4 linked regions of the Homo sapiens genome follow. The protein of the gene in region 1 interacts with the protein of each later gene in a pairwise test. Each region holds a gene or a part of one and is shown in the gene's direction. Other genes may lie near its edges.

Region 1 (4,925 bases):
TAAATCATATGTCATATACTTATTTAGAAGAATTTGTTTGTTTGTTTGTTTTTTGAGAAGGAGTCTTGCTCTGTTGCCCAGGCTGGAGTGCAGTGGTATGACCTTGGCTCACTGCAACTTCCGCCTCCTGGGTTCAAGTGATTCTCCTGCCTCAGCCTCCCAAGTAGCTGGGATTACCAGCAAGCATCACCACACCCGGCTAATTTTCGTATTTTTAGTAGAGACAGGATTTCGCCATCTTGGCCAGGCTGGTCTTGAACTCCTGACCTCAAGTGATCTGCCCGCCTCGGCCCCCCAAAGTGCTGGGATTACAGGCATGAGCCACTGTGCCCAGCCTAGAAGAATATTTTAAATATTTGTTTAGAAGAGGATTTTTTGTGTTTTTTTTTTTTTTTTGACATGGTCTTGCTCTGTCTCCTAGGCTGGAGTGCAGCAGCTTGATCATAGCTCACTGCAGCCTCAAAGTCCTGGGCTCCAGCAATCCTCCCATCTCAGCCTTCCAAGTAGCTGGGACCACAGGCACACACCATCATGCCCAGCTAAGTGGAGATGGGATCTTGCAATGTTGCCCAGGCTAGCCTCAAACTCTTGGGCTCAAACAATCCTCCTGCCTTGGCCTCCAAAAGTGCTGGGATTATAGGCATGAGCCACTGTGCCTGGCCTAGAAAAGTATTTTAATTTTTACTTTGAAGAGTTAATTATTTAGAAAAGTGTTTTCAGTAATATTTTGTAGGTGATTTTCATTTTGTTGGCATTTTATTTATAATGCTGATTTTTTGTTACTACATTGAAGTTAGAGAATATGATCTATATAATTCTGTATTTCAGAATGTATTGGGATGTTGAGACTTTTCTTATGGCCCAATATGTGTGATATATTTTGAAATATTTAATATACACACATGTAGTCCCTATAGGGTACAATTTTAATAACTGTGTTATTGTCTTATTAATCACATTGCTCATGTAATATCCTTGTTTCCTTTTGAGGATTCTGATGATTGTATTTCCGTCTATTTTTCCATGCATTTTTTCTGCTTTTAACTTTTTAACTGCATCTTTTTTTTTCACTATAAATTTTAGAGGTAATTTTCCCACCACTTAGGGTACATTTATATTTTCCTTTTGATGCAAGATTTTATCACAACCTCTTTTCTGAGCTTTTCTCACCCTTGTCATTTTTTGTGTGTTACTGATCTTTAAACAAGCGAGATCCATTCAGGCAGAATGGCTACATCTTTTACTCGCCTGTTTTCTGTCCCCTCTCTCTCCTCTCCCCAGCCATCAAAGAGCTATCTTGATAACTTTTAAAATTATCTTTCACAACAGGCACTGTCTTTAAACACAGAGGAAGACATTCATCGGGCTTTCCAGTCGCTTCTCACTGAAGTGAACAAGGCTGGCACACAGTACCTGCTGAGAACGGCCAACAGGCTCTTTGGAGAGAAAACTTGTCAGTTCCTCTCAGTAAGTTGAATCAATAGAACAATAAAAGTTGCATTCAACATACCTGGTGATATAGAGTCTGGGAGAAAGACCCTAGAGAAATTGAGAAATTTATGTTAACCAATTTAAAAAAATTGCACTATTTTTTTTTCTAAGATGGGGTCTCACTACGTTGCCCAGGCTGGTCTTAAACTCCTGGTCTCAAGTGATCCTCCTGCCTGTTGGGATTACAGATGTGAGCCACCACGCCCAGCCTAAACTTCTTTTTTTTTTTAAAGACTGCAATTCTATAATTATACCTTGCATTAGTATTGCAAAAGTAGTCTCTACTTTTCTTGAAAGGTAAAATTGAAAGGTAAAATTCTCAAGTTCATTTCTGGTTATTCAGGGTTCAATACATACCTATTCACAAACTCTGATATTTTAACATATCTTCATATGATCACTTTTAAAGAGTTATGTATATTCTTTTTATTAAAAAAAGATAACATATTTAGAATTTTTGGAAGTTTGCTGACATTTGTATTTAGCAATGCAGCCTCACTGAACATTTTTCTCTCCAAAGACGTTTAAGGAATCCTGTCTTCAATTCTACCATGCTGAGCTGAAGGAGCTTTCCTTTATCAGAGCTGCAGAAGAGTCCAGGAAACACATCAACACCTGGGTCTCAAAAAAGACCGAAGGTCAGAATGACAAGTTATTGCACCTTCCTCCCAACCCGTCCTCCTCCTGCGGCTCTTCCTATTCCTCCTTCCCGCCTCTTATATCCTCTCTCCTCCTCCTCTCCCTCCTATCCCTCCTCCCTCTCCTCACCCACCTCCACCTCTCCACTCCGCCCCCTCTAATTTCACGGGTGTTTCAGATGGTCAGAGTAGTGTTGACTGGCAGGGCCTCCTGGCATACTGAACCTTGATGGACTCATAAAGGTTCTGATCAGACATTCAGGTTTTCAGCAACAGAGATTTACTTTTGTCTATTCTCCCAGGACCAGAGTAGCTGATACAAATGTCAAAAGAGGGCCAGCCACGGTGGCTCTCGCCTGTAATCCCAGCAATTTAGAAGGCCGAAGTGGACATATCACTTGAGGTCAGGAGTTCGAGACCAGCCTGACCAACATGGTGGGACCCCCCCCCGCCCAACATCTCTACTAAAAATACAAAAATTAGCCAGGTGTGGTGGCCCATGCCTGTAATCCCAGCTGCTTGGGAGGCTGAGACATGAGAATCACTTGAACCTGGGAGGCAGAAGTTGTAGTGAGCTGAGATCATGCCACTGAACTCCAGCCTGTCTCAAAAACAAAAAACAAACAAAAAAACAAATGTCAAAAGAATCTCAGGCCAGGTTTCCAGTTTAATAACTTGCATTAAAATATACTCTCCCTGGCCTGTAACATTCACATGTCAGGTGACTCCATTGTCTCTGCGAGAAGGAGATTGGTGGACAGATCTTGCCTGAGGTATACACTTGGGCTGCCTCTTCCTAGGTTCTGGGGGACCTCCATCACCATTACCTTTACCTGCTAAGGTCACTCCTGACTTTTCATGTCTTCCACTTAAGCTCCTTTAGTTTGACTTGATAAGCCTACATTTGATTGGTTAACTGCCGACCCTCTCTCAGGGCTGATCAGTTCCACAGACTGAAAATACCCTCCATTTGGGGTTGAACCTTATTCATCTACATTTCAGAAAGTGACGTGTTCCAGTCTAGGCCTCCAAGACCAATGATGGTCTGATGAACCATTCAGACTCCTCTGCGCCAATTATGCTTAGTACCACCAGGAACATTTCCATTTCTGTGAATAAATGAGACGGTAAAGAATGGGAGACGTTCTTCGCTTAAAGTCTCAGCAGTTGTTTCCCGCATTCCTGCTTGGAGTATTTACCACGGATGCTCTCTTCAGGCAGTGGGTTAGCAGGGATGCCCTCAGTTCATTGAAACAGTACCACTTGATCTCCAGGGAAAGAAGGGGTGATCTTTGTTTGCCCACATCCTCTTTTCCAGGGATGCCTAGTGCTTTGTTGAGGGGATTCAGCAGGAATATCTCCTCCAAAAGCTTCTGGAAACTCCCCATGTGCCCAATGTCAGCTCTTCCCGCTTTGAGCCGTCCATTCTGGTTGCTTCTGACATGTCCATGTATAGTCACAGAATGTTAGAACTGGGTGTGATCATGAAGGGTTGGATCAAACACTCCAATTAACCATGTGAGACAAACACCCCTTCAGCCTATCACATTTCCTGCTGGTCTTGTTCTCCAACCTGGTGTAATTTTTCTACTTTGTACCAACCTGCTTTCCTCGAGTGACTTAGGTATCTTTCACCATCCTCAACTTGGTGGATGTTCTCAAGGTGTCAGTAATCATGAATACCACTCATATGTGCTGTTTTTATTTCTCTACATAACAACCCAAACTCAGCAAAGTTGAAAACAGAAGTTTGCTTCTCAACTAATGATCCAGGATCATCCAATGCATCAGGTTCTTATAAAAAGCAACTGAATGTAGTCTCTACTTTTCTTGAAAGGTAAAATTGAAGAGTTGTTGCCGGGTAGCTCAATTGATGCAGAAACCAGGCTGGTTCTTGTCAATGCCATCTACTTCAAAGGAAAGTGGAATGAACCGTTTGACGAAACATACACAAGGGAAATGCCCTTTAAAATAAACCAGGTGGGGGAAGCTTTTTAAAATCCTGCTAGTTTGATGAAGAAGTTGAATGGAAAGATTTAACTTTGTAAAAGTGTAAGTGACATAAGCGTAAGCCAAAAGGAATTTGAAACTTAAAGTATTTCTGAATGAATTTCTTAACTCAGTAGAAAAAAACGGAAGGAGTAAAAGATATTTGCTGCATATATATATTATATATACGTATATATAATATATATATATATATGTAGTGTTTTATCACTGCTCTTAACTGCCTTTGATAATTTCTCATAAACCATTGCTGCCACCTAGTTTTGGAAACTAAAGATCTTCCTATAAGCCCAATTTACTTGGCTAGAAAGCAAAAAAAAAAAAAAAAAAGTGTTAAGGTAGTGTGATATGTGGGAGTGAGAGGCAGTATAGGGCAGGGTAGAGGGAGAGAAGGTGAAAACATGTGTCTTTAATTAGTTATTTTTAAAATTAAAGTAAGTTTTGATTTGAATTGTTAACTAATTATCATTAATTCAGTATTTACAGCTTTTTAATATTAAAACTTCATGACAAAGACCTTAGTTTTGACATTGAAGTAAAACTTAATTAAGGCAGGCATTAGAATAATTTGCCAAATCTTCCAGCCCCTAAAAAGATACTATTTTAATGTAATTAAAAAACAAAAGCAGGTAACCCTCCTGCATTTTTTGTAAGGTGTACTTTAACTTAAAAAAATTAGTTCTCTAGTTGCAAAGGGTGGGAGGAGGAGAATTCTAACCCTGGTTTTAGAACTATTTTAATTTTTATAATAAATGATCTGTATCAATTTTTTAAAGTATTACGTTAATA
Region 2 (4,925 bases), on another chromosome or scaffold:
GTCCTGTTTGCCCTCTGCTATCCCCAGAAGCCAGAGATCCAATCAGAGCACCTTCCACCATTTAGGGCCAGCCTGCCTGTCTGCTTTCCAAACCTCATGCTGCTCCAGGGCTGTCCAGGAAACCTTTCCTGCCACACTGGCCTTAATGTTCCCCTGCACCCCCTGTTCCCGGCCCCCAGCGAAAGGGTCTTCCCAGACCACCCCTGGAATCCTAGCTCTGAGGTGATGGCACTGTTGATGAAAAAGCCAAACTCTGTTAAATATTCGAAGAGGTTTATTCTGAGCCAAATGTGAGGGCCATGACCTGTGACATAGTCCTGGGAGGTCCTGAGAACATGTGCCCAAGGTGATTGGGGTACAGCTTGATTTTTATCCAAGTTACAGGCAGAAGTTACAGGCAAAGACATAAATTGATATATGTAAGGTATACATTGGTGGGGACAGGGTAAGGTGGATTAAAAGATTTTCCTGATTGGCAATTGGCTGAAAAAGTTAAACTTTGCCTAAAGAGTTAAAAGTCAGCAGAAGAAAAGCTTGGGGTTAAGATAAGGTGGGTTGTGAAAGCCAAGGTTCATGTAACGTAGATGAAGCCTTCAAGAGAATAGATGGTAAATGTCTCTAAGGTGTCAGACTCTTAGTTAAATCTCCTCTAAATCAGGAAAAGGCCTAGAAAGGGAAGGGAATCTCTGCAGGACATAAATTTTCCCAACAAGAGATGGCTTTGCAGGGCCATTCCAAACTATGTCAAAAATATACTTGGGGGTAAGATACTTTGATTTCCTTAGGGCCTGTTATCTCCCATGTGATGTTAGACCAGTCAGGTTGGAGTTGGTATCTTAATTGCTGAGAGTCTGTTCTGTCAGTCTTAGGAGTCTGTTTTAATGTTAATGCTGGTCAGTTGTGTCTAAGCTCCAAAAGGGAGAGGCTAGGATGAGGCATGGCCCACGCCCCACTTCGTGTCATGGCCTGAACTCAGTTTTCAGTTTTTTTGAAATCCCTTTGGCCAAGGGGGGCCCATTCAGGCAGTTGGGGAGCTTAGAATTTTATTTTTGGTTTACAGCACTCACTCAGGAATCGGGTTTTCCTAGGGCTGGGGTTGGCTTCCTCCTGGGGGCTGGTGGTGGAGTCAGGCCGCTTATCAGCCCTGGGACCTCAGGAACTTCCTTGACCTGGGTCAGCTGCCATTTCCTTATCTGTCAGGTGGAGACAATAAAACAGCACTCCTAGGGTCCTTAGGAGGAACATAAATTAGGCAATATATGTAAAGAGAACTGAGCCCATTTAACTTTTCTTGGTTTTGTTAACTTCTTTGTGCGGTGATTGAGAGCTGAGACAGACATCACCTTTCCCTTTCCCCTGATGCTCAGCCAGGAGTTGGCTAGAGATTTGTTTACGTGTGAATGTGCCTGCCTGGCCCAGGTCTGTCCAAGTTGCTGTGGTGGGGCCAAGCCAGTCAGCAGCCCCCTCAGGCTCAGGCTAAAGTCCCCACCCCACCCGCCCCACCCCACCCCACCCCACCCCACCCCACCCACTTCCAGGAGGAAGCTGGCAGCCCTGAGGGATTTAACCACTCACTGACTTCAGCTCTTCCTGCATACTCATTTAGGTGATGACATTCTTGGTCTGTAGGTTTAGGTGGCCACATCCACTGGGATGACAGATGCCAGGTACAACATATCAGGTACAGGTACATATCAGGCCCCGTGACAGGCATTTTACACATTCTCCATCTGAGAGGTCTGAGCATGCCTACCTGGTTAGTGGCAAACTGCGATGAGACCTCATGGTCATCCCGGTTAGACACGTCCCTGTCTGTGCTGCTCAAGCCAGACCCTCGAAGCCCAAATGAGGAGCAGAAGTGTAGCAAGGGAGCCCTCCCCTTTTGAAGCCGTTCCAGTGGTACTTTTTACTGCTGAGCTGGCAGATGTTGGACTGGGACAGGAGTGAGGGGTGGGGGCAGGGTGTTGCAGGACCCAGCCCCTGAATGTGATGTGTGAGCCTGTGAGCCCCTGCTTCCTGGTCCCATTGGGTTCCTGCCACCTTCAGCTGCAGCCTCCCCCTCGAACCTGCAGCTCCGTATCTGAATCAGCCTGTCGTTCCCTGCCTACAGGTTTCAATCCTACAGGGCCTTGGCTTTCTGGGCAGCATTTGATGTGAAGCGCCCTTACCACCTACTCCTTGGGGTGGACCCACCCCTGGCACCCAGGACTCCTTGCCTCCCAACGACTAAGCCCCCTGGGCTTTCCTTCCTTGTTTCTTTCCTTCAAATCTATTATCAGTTTTTACTTTTGTGTTCTGCAAAGGCCTTTTTGGTTGCAGTTTGAGTAAGAGAGGCTGACCTCCTGCTGCTTGCTGGGAATGGACTCTGGCTGGGGGAAAGTTCCCTGCCCATTCATCTGGCTGCCATCTGTCTCTTCAGGTGTCATGTGATTCTCTGAGGGAGCAGCTGCGTGAGTGGAGATGCTTTCAGTGGTGGAGAATGGACTGGACCCCCAGGCTGCCATCCCGGTAGGTGGGTGAGGGAGGATCAAGGGCGGGGAAGGGCTGCAGGGGACAGTTGTATCATCGGCTTGGCTCACTTCCTTGGGCACTGTCCTGCAAGAGAGACCAGGTTGAGAAAAAGTTACAGCACAAGCAGGCTCTGAGGAGACCCTGTCTTTTCTAGATCACCTTATTGGTGATAAGATGGAGATTTATGAAAAGCAGTGGGAATTTAAGATCAGTAACCTGAAGACCAAGGATTTCCATTCAGCCCTTCAGCCCTCTGCCCTTAGGCCATGATTTGGTCACAGTCTGGCCAAAGCACTGAATGGGTGGGAAACAGATATTCCCAGGCACTGGTTTGTTGTTTCAGTAATGGGGGTAAATTGGTAACTTACATGTATCTGAACACTTACCATTTTCTAGGATATTCTAAATGTAATTATTTGTGAGCAGTTCACTGGAGCCCCCTAGGACCTTTTCTTGGACAGCCCTTTGCACCCTCCTGGGCTATCTTGGGTACTCCAGATAGAGCTCTCTGTTCTCTTGGAGAGGCAGGAAGTCAGGTAGCTTTGGGGCTGGTCCCTTAGCAGCATCCTGAGATGGCTTTCGGGGAGAAGCCAGGATTTCCTTTCCTCCCCACTGCTGCTTCCCAGCTCAGAGAACTCTGCTTGAAAGAAACTGTAGCTCTCAGAGACGTGCCTTTCCCCGTCCTGGCCACAGGAGAGTCCAGCTCCACCTGTTTCCCAGCTGGCTTTCATGCAGAGGCTCTTCCCTCCCCTCTGCACCCCCACTCTCCCACCCCCAGTGCCTGCCGAATCCCACCCCAGGACCCTCCAGAGCTAGGGCAGAAGCCTGGCCAACCCAGCCTTCTAACAACAGCTGCACAAACTGACTCCATGAGGGTATGCCTTTCTTGAGGGTATGCCTTATTTCTCCCTGTATACCCTAACCCAACACCTAGTAGGTGCTCAATTGAACGAAGTATGTATGTACTTTTTAAATATAATATACAAATAACATCTTGCTTTTAAAAGAACATTTAAAATTAGACTATTTCAAGATTAAAAACTTTTGAGCTTCAAAGGATACTACCAAGAAAATGAAAAGACAACCCACAGAATGGGAGAAAATATTTGCAAATCAAATATCTGATAAGGGTCTAGTATCCAGAATGTATAAAGAACACTTATAACTCAACAATAAAAAGACAAATAATCCAGTTATAAAATGGGTAAAGGATTTAAATAGACCCTTCTCCAAAGAAGATACACACATGGCCAATAAAGATGCTCATTATCATTAGACATCAGGAAAATGCACATCGAAACCACAGTGAGATACTACTTCACACCCCCTAGGATGGCTGTAATAAAAAAGGCAATAACTAGTGCTGGCAAAAATGTGGAGAGATTGGAACTCATATATTGCTGGTGGGAATGTAAAATAGTGCAGCCACTTTGGCACACAGTTTGGCAGTTCCTTGATAAGTTAAACATAGGGTTATGTGTACAGTTCCACTCCTAGATATATACCCAAGAGAACTAGAAATATAAGTCCACTCAAAAACTTGTACATGGATGTTCATAGCAGCATTATTGATAATAGCAAAAGAGTAGAAACAACCCAAATGTCTATTAACTGATGAATGGATGAATAAAATGTGGTATATCTAGGCAGCGGAATATTTTCTGGCAATAAAAAGGGATGAAGTCCTGATACATGCTACAACATGATGGAAAATATGCTAAGTGAAATAAGTCAGATTCAAAGGGTCATATGCTGTATTGATATCTATTCATGTGAGATGTACAAAATATGCAAAGCCACAGAAACAGAAAATAGATTAGTGACTGCATTCACTTCGTATTCCCCTTTCTCCCAGCCCCTGGCAATCACTAATATACAGTATTTCTTTTTGGGGTGATGAAAATCGTTTTTTTTGTTTGTTTTTTTGTTTTTTTGTTTTTTTGTTTTTTTGAGACGGAGTCTCCCTCTGCTGCCCAGGCTGGAGTGCAGTGGCACAATCTTGACTCACTACAAACTCCACCTCCCAGGTTCAAGTGATTCTCATGCCTCTGCCTCCCAAGTAGCTGGGATTATGGGTGTGCACCACCATGCCCGGCTAATTTTTGTATTTTTGGTAGAGATGGGGGTTTCACCATGTTGGCCAGGCTGGTCTCGAACTCCTGACCTCAGGTGATCCACTCGTCTTGGCCTCCCGAAGTGCTGGGATTATAGGCGTGAGCCACTGTGCCCGGCCAGAAAATCTTCTAAAATTAGGTAGTGGTGATGGTTGCACAATTGTGTGAATATACTAGAAACAATTGAACTGTATACTTTAAATGGGTGTATTTTATGGTATATGAATTATATCTCATTAAAACCGTTATATTTTTTCAAATTTAACTTTTCAAAGAATGTTAACATTTAGTGTTTTGGCT
Region 3 (4,925 bases), on another chromosome or scaffold:
CTGTGGAAGTACGTGCCCTGCTCACCTGGACCCTCAACCCACAGATCGACAACGAGGCCCTCTTCAGCTGCGAGGTCAAGCACCCAGCTCTGTCGATGCCCATGCAGGCAGAGGTCACGCTGGGTAAGACTTGGTGGGGGCCCTTCTGTAGAGCCCTTGCAGACCTGGGTGTGGGGAGAGCCTTGGAATAGGGTTCCTGGGCTGAGGACAGCCATGGAAAGGGGGAGGAGATGGAGCAAACTGGAGTCAGGATGAGCACAAATGGTAGAGTCAGGTTCTTAGGGAGGTTTGCTGAGCTGGATTGGAGAAGATGGGAGGTACCCACAGGCCAAGGTAGTTTGCTGGGTTGAGCCAAGAACATGAGAGGTCAGAAGAGTTTGCTGGATAGGGTCAGGGACACAGGAGATCAGGGGAGGTCAGAGGAGTTCCTGGATTAGATCAGGAACATGGGAGGTCTAGGAGGTCTTCTGGAAGGGTCAGAAACAAGAGATTGAGGAGATTTGCTGGGTTGGGTCAGGAACATAAGAGGTTGGGGAAAAGCAAGGGAGTCACTGGGCTGGGTCAGCAACATGAGAGGTCAGGGAGTTTGTACAGTCCAGATAAAAAAGATGGAAAGTCAGAGAAATATGCTGGATTGGTGTTAAAAACAGGGGAGGTTTTCTAGGTCAAAACTGGAACCAGGATGTTTGCTGGGTAAATAAAGTATACACAAGAGTCGGGTTTCTTCAGGAAGGGTTGCTGAGTCAAGTCAGAAGCATAGGTCAGCGTGAAGACCAGGGGAGGTCAAGATTTTTCTAGTCAGCCTCAGGAGCACAAGAGATCAGGGGACATTTGTCGGATCAAGGAGAGGAACCTTGAGGTCATGGCATGCTCAGGGGAGTTTTCTACATCACAGGTGGGAACATGGGAGGTGACAGGGAGATTTTCTGGATTGCATATGAGCCCAGTGAGCTCAGAGGACAGTTGCTGCATAAGGGTTGCAAACCTGGGAGGTTGCAGGCTTTGCTGGATCGGGTTCGAGAATTCTGAAAGTCATAGGAATTTTTGCCAGGTTGGGGTCAGGAACACATAGGACATGGAAGGATATCACTCCGGCTTACACTTTTAAGTACAATGAAAACCCTGTCATCTGTGGGTATGTGGGAGGCAGGCAAAGAGGACACTGGCTGCCCAGAGACAGCTCAGCCCAAGAATCTAATCCATGTCCATGATCTGCACCTCTCCCCACAGAGCACCAACCCAGGGATCCCCAAAGCAGTTCCCTGGTAACTCACTCTCTTCCCCTTATACTGGTCCTCCCCACTGACTCAGGGCAGGGAAAGGGGAGATGTGGAATCTTCGTTGCTGAAAATATACAAGACTCATCTCCAGTTGTTTGTATGGACTGGGTGGGCGAGGGCAGGGGATGGGCACGATGACCTGTGCTTGTCCTTTCCCCTATGTCCTTTGAACCTTGATTTGCAGCCCCCAGCAGCTCCTCCCTGAGCCCGAGATGCCTGGGCTCATACTCCAAAACTCCTGTAGTGTCAGGGGCTGCCTGGAGCAGTCCACAGCCTCTAACCCAGGCCACTCATGACCAAGGACTGAGAGCAGTAACTGACAAGAATTGGGACTGCAGCTTGTGTCAGGTGTTCTAGAGAGCTTCTGTTTCATCTGGACCATCAGAAAACCCAACACCTCCTCAGTATCAAATACCAAAGAAAAGGATTTCTTGTACGGATAGTATGTACTATGTGCCAGGAACATCTGCAAGGATTCTCATCCAATCCTCACAAGCACAAGTTGGCTGTGTAGTCTCATTTTGCATATGAGCAAAACTGAGGCTCAAGTTGGTAGAGTACTTTGCCAAGTCGTTAACTTTGTATGTAGCGGCGTTGAAATTTCAAGCCAAGTTTATTGGTGCCTTCTTCACTCACTACCATGCCAACCACTGAACTCACCAGCCCCAGGATGTGGTGTCTTGACTGGTTATGGGACTGGTTCCCTGAAGACCCATTACAATGGACCTTTGATATTCTCTCTCTCTCTCTTTTTTTTTTTTTTTTTTTTTTGACAGAGTCTGGCTCTGTCACACCCAGGCTGGAGTGCAGTGGGTGATCTTGGCTCACTGCAACCTCAGCCTCCCAGGTTCAAGTGATTCTCCTGCCTCAGTCTCTCAAGTAGCTGGGATTACAGGTGCCTTCCACCACATCCTGCTAATTTTTTTTTTTAATAGAGGTGGGGTTTCACCATATCGGCCAGGCTGGTCTCAAACTCCCAACCTCAGGTGATCCACCTGCCTCGGCCTCCAAAGTGCTGGGGTTACAGACGTGAGCCACCGCACCCAGCAGCCTTTTGATTTTCACAGGCCACCTGCCCATACAGAAACTAAAAATAAAGGCTAACATTTAGTGAGCACCTACTATATGCCACAGACTGTGGCCTCTCTTATATTAACCCAGTGAGACAGGCACCATTATTATCCCATGTCACAGAGGAGGAAGCTGAGGCTCAGGGAAGTTAAGTTGCCCAAGGTGAGTGGGGGAGAATTCAAAGGCTCCAGAGTCTGCTCTAAGCCTCTCACTCTGCCTCCTCACGGCGTCCCTCTGTCACAGGTGCCCACTTCCTGGGTACTCTTTGTTCATCATTCCATAAAGATATCACAAGCAGGGCCAGGCACAGTGTCTCACGCCTGTAATCCTAACACTTTGGGAGGCCAAGGCGGGTGGATCATGAGGTCAGGAGTTCAAGACTAGCCTGACTAATGTGGTGAAACCCCATCTCTACTAAAAAAAAAAAATACAAAACTTAGCTGGGCTTGGTGGTGTGTGCCTATAATCCCAGCTACTCAGGAGGCTGAGACAGGAGAATCACTTGAACCCAGGAGGCAGAGGCTGCAGTGAGCCGAGATTGCACCACTGCACTCCAGCCTAGGTGATAGAGTGAGACTTCATCTCAAAAAGAAAAAAAAAAAGTTGGGGGGAAAAAAGATATTACAAGCATCACAAGGCCAGGCCCTGTACTAAGTGCTGGGATCTTCCCAACCCAGAGCCTGCTCCGACCCCTCTCTTGGTCCTCCTGCTTTTCCAGCCCTTCACTCCTCTCTCTGGACCCTCCATCCTTCCATGGCCTCTTCCTCCCCTGACAGAGCAGCCTCCACCCTTTACCTGGTTGCTTCATTTATGAAAGCCCCCTCCTGCCCCTCTTGTGGAAGCTCTGGCTTCCAGCGGGGTGGCACCCTTGCCCCACCCCACCAAGAATAAGGAGGAGAAAGATGAAAGGCCAGATACAGACTTCAAGGCAGCTGGTGAAAAGTGAGCTTGTAGCTGACATCTTCTAGTGATGAGAGGGGGTGTGCCTCTGCTGGCCTGTGTGACCCCTATCAACAGCACCCCAAACCACATTAAAGCACTTGCCTGCTCTGTCCTGGATCCCAGGCCCTCCCTTAACTGGAGCCGCCTCTGTGGGCACCCCCACTCATCATCAGAGCAAGAGAAAGAAGGGCCCACTCATAAGCAGTGGGCCTGGACAGGCAGGTCTGCACACACCGGGGGATTTGGGGCATGGGGGACACAGCAGGGCCACCAAGATGAAGGGCCCTAATTGGGTGGGTGAGTAAAGAGACACCTGGGCTGACTTCCTAGCCTCCCTCGACTGCTGAGTGAGAATTCAGACTTCTTAACGTCTCTGAGTCTCAGTTTTCTGACCTGATGAAGGGGGAGAATAGTAACTGCACAAATGTTTTGAGCACCTACTCAGAGCCAGGCTCTCTGCAAGATGCTTTCCTCACCAGGTCTCCTTTAAACCTGCAGTGAACCTGTGAGGCCGCTGAGAGTTGCTATCATATTATTCCCATCTGAGAGGTGAGGGACTCAGGTTTAGAGTAACCTTTCTTAGGTCAGCCAGCCAAGGCTGTCTGGCCCCAGATCTCACATTCTTAACCACTGTGCTCTACAGCCCACCTGTCAGGGCTGTGGTGAGACGTCACTGAGCCAGGGGATATGACCAGTGGAATGTGCCATGAGCCAAAGAGTCGTGAGTGTATGCACCTTGCACCATCAGGGCACCCTGCACTCTGGGTGAGACAGTGGGACGGATTAGATGACCTCAGAGCACAAAATCCAATCATTCAACAAGGATTTTGAAGATCAGGCCAACGAGGGTGGGATGTGTCTCCCTGCAATGAGCCTTCGCTCCTCCTCTTCCCTTGCAGGGATGCCCTCCGCAGCTGAAATGCCACCCCTCCAGGAAGATTTCTCTGACTCTCCCCCAACCCTTTGAGCTGTTTGTGCCTCTTCTCAGTTCTTGTCTCACCAGATTTGTACCTTTCTCGTAATCTGGACCACAGATGCCTGAGCGTCCTGGCACCCATCTCACTAAATGGCAACCATGTCCTTCCCATTGATCAAACCAGAAGCCTTGCAGACCCCTCACCTTTTCCACTCTTCCCTCCTATCCCACATGCAAACCATCATTAAGCCCTGGCAGCTCAACTTCAGAATATATCCCAAATCTGCCACTCCTCACGGTCTCCTCTCCAAATACCCAACCCAAGCACCATCAGTTCAAGCCTGGGTTATTAGAGTAGCCTTCAAACTGATCGTTCTGCTTCCACTTTCACCCTATCCTATTTCCCACCCCGATTGATCTACTTAAAATATAAATCAGATCATGACACCCGCCCAAAACCTTCCTGTGGTAGACAAATAGATTGACAAAACAGGATAGAGTCCAGAAATAGATCTACATACACAGAGTTCATTGATTTTTGCCAAAGACCCCCAAGGCGGTTCAATCAGGAAAGAGAAGTTCTCTTAAAAAATGACCCTGAAACAAATGAATAGGCATAAGGAAAAATTAAACCTGGACCCCTGCCTCGCACACACACAAAAATTAATTTGAAATGAATCATAGATTTAAAAGTAGAAGTCAGCATCATGAAGCCT
Region 4 (4,925 bases), on another chromosome or scaffold:
GTCTGAAGTTAAATAATCCTGTTCTGTTCTTGAACCTAATTCAATTGCTGACCCCACCTCTAGTATAGAATAAGGCACAGAGATGTCATGAAGGGTGAAGCTAAGGCTCAGGGTCATAGGCCATTAAGCTGCATACTTGATCACTTCAGAAAGGGCCATATGAAAACAAGTCAGCTAGCAGGATGAGGGGGAAAAAATAAAATAATAAAGTCTTATTCTGAAAATTTGATTATATTGTGATTTTGATTAAAATCTGAATATTCTCTGATGGCTCCATAGTAGTTTAAAAAAATCACACTTTTAATAGATTTAGCTACTTAACAATGGATTATGTGTACATTTAAAGTTGTTACAGATGGACACCTGTGCAGTTTTGTAGGCTTTTTGAGTCTGTATTTAAAGGAAGAATGAGGTAAAAAGAGGCTCTTAAGAGCCACATTAAGGCTGGTGTGGTGGCTCACGCCTGTAATCCCAGCACTTCAGGAGGCTGAGGTGAGCAGATCACTTGAGGTCAGAAGTTCGAGACCAGCCTGGCCAACGTGGCAAAACCCTGTCTCTACTAAAAATACAAAAAAATTAGCCAGGCATGATGGTGGGTGCATGTGGTCCCAGCTACTCAGGAGGCTGAGGCACGAGAATCACTCGAACCCAGGAAGTGGAGGCTGCAGTGAGACAAGATTGCGCCACTGCATTCCAGCCTGAGTGACAGAGCAAGGCTCTGTCTCAAAAAGGCCACAGTACAATCCCTTATTTTCAGGTTCAGACACCACAAGAAGTCTGTAATTAGCTTTCCAACTTCTATGTAATCTCAGTAATAAGAATACATTATTTTTAATGTCATATAATTCCTTTATAGTGATATTTGGGGCAAACACGACTGCCAGCCCCTAGAGGCCACATCTGTGTGACTTCTGAATTAATTCTCATAAAATATGTCAAGCAGAACTGAATAAAAGAAAATGAACAACCCTCCCCAGTAATATATGAGGGTTAGAAAAGGCATGAGTCAGCAATGTCTGTTGTACACAGTTAAAAACTTTTATGTATTATAAGAAGTCCAAACTTCCTCCACATTAATACATTAGCATTAGACTATCCTGCTTCAGCCATTAGATCCCTGTCCCATCGGTAATAATAATAGCTAACATCTCAGTGCTAACCATATGCCAAGTACTGTCTTAAGCATTATATGTACATAATCTCATTTAATCCTCAAAACAACTCTTTAAGTTGTACCAGGTACTGTTACTATTTCCATTTTACCAATGAGGAGACCAGAGAAGTTAAATGACTTGCTGGCATCTCACAGTAAATGGCAGAGTTTGGGTTCAAACCTAGACAGCCTGACTCCAGAACTCACACTCTTTTTTGGGCTTTCTTGTTTTATTTCTAAACTGTTATACAGAGTCCTTAATAAGGTTATACCTCATCTGCTTTTTCTTTTGGTAAAGGATAGAGAAATTAGCAAGCTACCTGATTTTAAGAAGTTTAGTGCTACAGGTTGAATATCCCTTATCTGAAATGCTTGGGACCAGAATTGTTTCAGATTTCAAATTTTTTTTTTTTTTTTTGGAATATTTGCAATACAGTTACCAGTTGAGCATCCCAAATCTGAAATCCAAAATACTCCAATGCACATTTCCTTTGAGTGTTATGTCAGCACTCAAAAAGTTCCAGATTTTGGATTTCAGATTTTTGGATTAGGGATATTCAATCTGTAACAGTTATATTTTCTTTGTAAGGCTGTCTTAAATCATTTCTACAAAATTGTCCCTCCCTAACGAGGCAAAAGCTTATAAATCTATCAGGTAAGTGCTACCTTTCACATATTCTTTGTAGTGCCAAATAATAGGGAGGATACCCAGGAATTTAAACAAAATTGGTTATGTTGTGCGGACAAAGGGCAATTATTTTAACTATACATCTATTTTGTTTTACTGCCTGACTTCTGAGTCGTATCCAATACCATGGAATTTTCCAGTGGTAGAAAATCTCTCAAAATCAAAGTAATAAGAGATAAAACCCTTTCCATCTGGGTATTCAAAAAATAAGAACAAAACATTATTTTTTTTGAGGAACTCTTAGGGTCTAAGGAAGCATTTTATTGAGATTCTTTTCATTCAAAGGCCTACAAATTTATCTCTCTTCACTAGGAAATCCTTTTTTTCTTCCTTGAATCTCTTTCTTTTCATTTTGATATTTCAGATATGTAGGTTTCATATTTACTTAACCAGTCAACATTATACCTTGTAGCATGTTAACAAATTCATTTAAATTTCATGAAAACAATTCTGTAAATAAAAAGATGGCTTTCTATAGATCACTAGGTTATTTTTATTTTGTTTTCTAGGAAATAACAGTACAACAGCTAATGGCTCATTTGGATGCTATCAGGAAAGACATGGTCATCCTAGAGAAAAGTGAATTTGCAAATCTGAGAGCAGAGAATGAGGTGATACAAATTTTAATTTATTACTTATAAAATAACTGATCTCATAATAAGCATCCTACTTAAGGAATAAGTTAATAAGACCAAGTAATAATTCCATGTGGTTAGTAAACAATAAGTTTTTAGATTTAAAAACATACTATTTGTTTAACCATACCTAATCTTTTTCTATATAAATCATAGTGCTTTGCATACTGAAGAGAATAAGAGTTACATTTTATACATATAAAACCACATAAAACAAAATCTTTGAGCTATATATATAAAATTTGTATATAATGGTTTCAGAGCTGAGAGTAATACGGCATTTTCTATTTTATTTAATCCTGTACTAAATGTCTTTGTGACTTAAAAGTATATTTCTGTAATTAAGTCAGAATTTTAAGTTATGTTATCCACTATAGCTTATTTTTAAATTTAGAAAATCAGTTTTTAAAAGTATAATATAAAAACAAATGCATTTTGCTCATAAGAATTATTTTCTGAATACAGTGGCTTACTAGTTTCTTTTGAAGATTTTTTTCCTTATCAATTCTGTATTAGAAATCCATAGATTGTCCAAATTTTGGTAATCTAGGGTTTCAGATTTTTTTAATCATAATATAGACTTGGTTTAATGCTAATTGCATGTGATCTTTCCTGTACCTAGAAAATGAAAATTGAATTAGACCAAGTTAAGCAACAACTAATGGTAAGTGAATTTTTTTTCTAGCTGTTAATTTCAGAACAAATATTCGTTACAAGATCATTTTTTAAATATCTTTGCTTTCTTTAAAGCATGAAACCAGTCGAATCAGAGCAGATAATAAACTGGATATCAACTTAGAAAGGAGCAGAGTAACAGATATGGTAATGTTCTTTTAAATGTACTTTCTTGGTTACTTACTCCTTTTTTATTTTTAGACTTTTTTTTTAACTTCCTGCTGCTTCATATCCTATAGTTTACAGATCAAGAAAAGCAACTTATGGAAACAACTACAGAATTTACAAAAAAGGTAAAGTAATATGTAAAAATGTCTCTTTTGTACAGTTCTTGTGCCTTGTATAACTGCTTTTATGTGTACCAGTTTATAAGTTTAGACTTTTAAAAACTACCCTTGTAGAGTCTCTGGCTTCCTCATAGCTATTATAGTTAACCAGCACTTTTGGGGAACCTGGCACCAGGTAGATGGTCGCCCATGAGCCATGACCTTGAAGTAAGAATCAAGATTTCCACATAGTGTGCTTTTTTAAACTAAATTACTTCTATAATAGAAAATAACTATTTTTTGGGCCAGGCACAGTAGCTCACACCTGTTAATCCTGCACTTTGGGAGGCTGAGGCAGGAGTTCAAGACCAGTCTGGGCAACATAGCAAGACCCTGTCTCAAAAACAAAAAAAAAAAAAAGAAAATAACTATTTTTTAAAAGACAAAGATTCACTATTGGTATTTCATAATTGGTACTTAAATGAGTGCCTAGGTTCAGTTAAATAATTATCTTAAGGTTTTAAAAAAGCTATATATTAATAACATATAAACACTAATATTTAGTGTTTATTTAATGTGCCAGATACCATTTTACATGCTTTACTTATATCTGTTAATTCACTTAATATTCATTTCAGTCTCTGTGAGGTAGGCACTATTATTCCCATTTTAACAATTTGGAAAATGAAGCACAGAGGGGTTAAGGTCCCACAGTTAATAAGTGGTGTCACTAGGGAAAAGAACCTGGATTCTAAATCCCTAACTTGGAACTACTGCTCTCCTTCTCAGTAATCCTACAATGTAATCATGACTTCATCTCTGTGGCTTGAGTAAAACCCAGCTTTCTGACTCAGCCTTGTCCTTTTCTTAAAAGTTCAAAGCCATTTGTCCACATTCTAACAGAAAATATGTCACTCTTGCTCATAATTTAATAGAAGAGAAGGTCACATTTGTTCTTTCAAAGATCTTATTCTCTTCCCTTACTTCTTGGCCAGATAAAGGAGATAAGCAAGGAAATCAGCAAAATCTTTTACAACTACTTTCTGTGCTCTAGGTCTCATCTGTCCTCCCTACCCTTTGTCCCCTATACCTGTATCAGTGTTACCCATCAGGTTATTTATGCCAGTTCCTTTAATACTGGCGCCAGTTCATATTATACACCTGGTTATTTTTTTTTCCATTTGCAGAATATATTTAAAGTTTTAACCATAATATCCTAAGGACTTCACACACATAAAATGATAGTTCTGTGACCTAATTTTTTGCTTCTTAGTTTATCATCTTATGTATTCAGGTATAAATATGTTATTATGAGGTTTTTAGAATATGCCCAGTATGTCATACCCCTAAAAGATGATCTCCAAATATGAAAGCAGAAGGAATGTAATTCGTCAGTTTATAGTGTTTTTAAAAAAAAATTTTTTTTAATACTTTAAGTTCTAGGGTACATGTGCACAACGTGCAAGTTTGATACATAGGTATACATGTACCATGTTGGTTTGCTGCAC

What was found. The genes of interacting proteins can lie anywhere in the genome.
Region 2: the proteins of SERPINB9 (region 1) and PLEKHM1 interact in a two-hybrid assay, tested with the Homo sapiens proteins (one large-scale study listed by BioGRID and IntAct).
Region 3: the proteins of SERPINB9 (region 1) and IGSF21 interact in a two-hybrid assay, tested with the Homo sapiens proteins (one large-scale study listed by BioGRID and IntAct).
Region 4: the proteins of SERPINB9 (region 1) and CCDC90B interact in a two-hybrid assay, tested with the Homo sapiens proteins (one large-scale study listed by BioGRID and IntAct).

The regions. Positions count from the first base shown.
Region 1 is NC_000006.12:2,892,595-2,897,519, reverse strand, and holds part of SERPINB9 (serpin B9), read left to right. Parts: intron 1-1,329; coding exon 1,330-1,467; intron 1,468-2,011; coding exon 2,012-2,129; intron 2,130-3,966; coding exon 3,967-4,109; intron 4,110-4,925. UniProt on the Homo sapiens protein: Granzyme B inhibitor.
Region 2 is NC_000017.11:45,480,020-45,484,944, reverse strand, and holds part of PLEKHM1 (pleckstrin homology domain-containing family M member 1), read left to right. Parts: intron 1-2,419; coding exon of another isoform or gene 2,420-2,460; coding exon 2,461-2,508; intron 2,509-4,925. UniProt on the Homo sapiens protein: Acts as a multivalent adapter protein that regulates Rab7-dependent and HOPS complex-dependent fusion events in the endolysosomal system and couples autophagic and the endocytic trafficking pathways.
Region 3 is NC_000001.11:18,365,575-18,370,499, forward strand, and holds part of IGSF21 (immunoglobulin superfamily member 21 precursor), read left to right. Parts: coding exon 1-123; intron 124-4,925. UniProt on the Homo sapiens protein: Involved in synaptic inhibition in the brain. Selectively regulates inhibitory presynaptic differentiation through interacting with presynaptic NRXN2.
Region 4 is NC_000011.10:83,272,166-83,277,090, reverse strand, and holds part of CCDC90B (coiled-coil domain-containing protein 90B, mitochondrial isoform 1 precursor), read left to right. Parts: intron 1-2,350; coding exon 2,351-2,452; intron 2,453-3,098; coding exon 3,099-3,140; intron 3,141-3,226; coding exon 3,227-3,298; intron 3,299-3,390; coding exon 3,391-3,444; intron 3,445-4,925.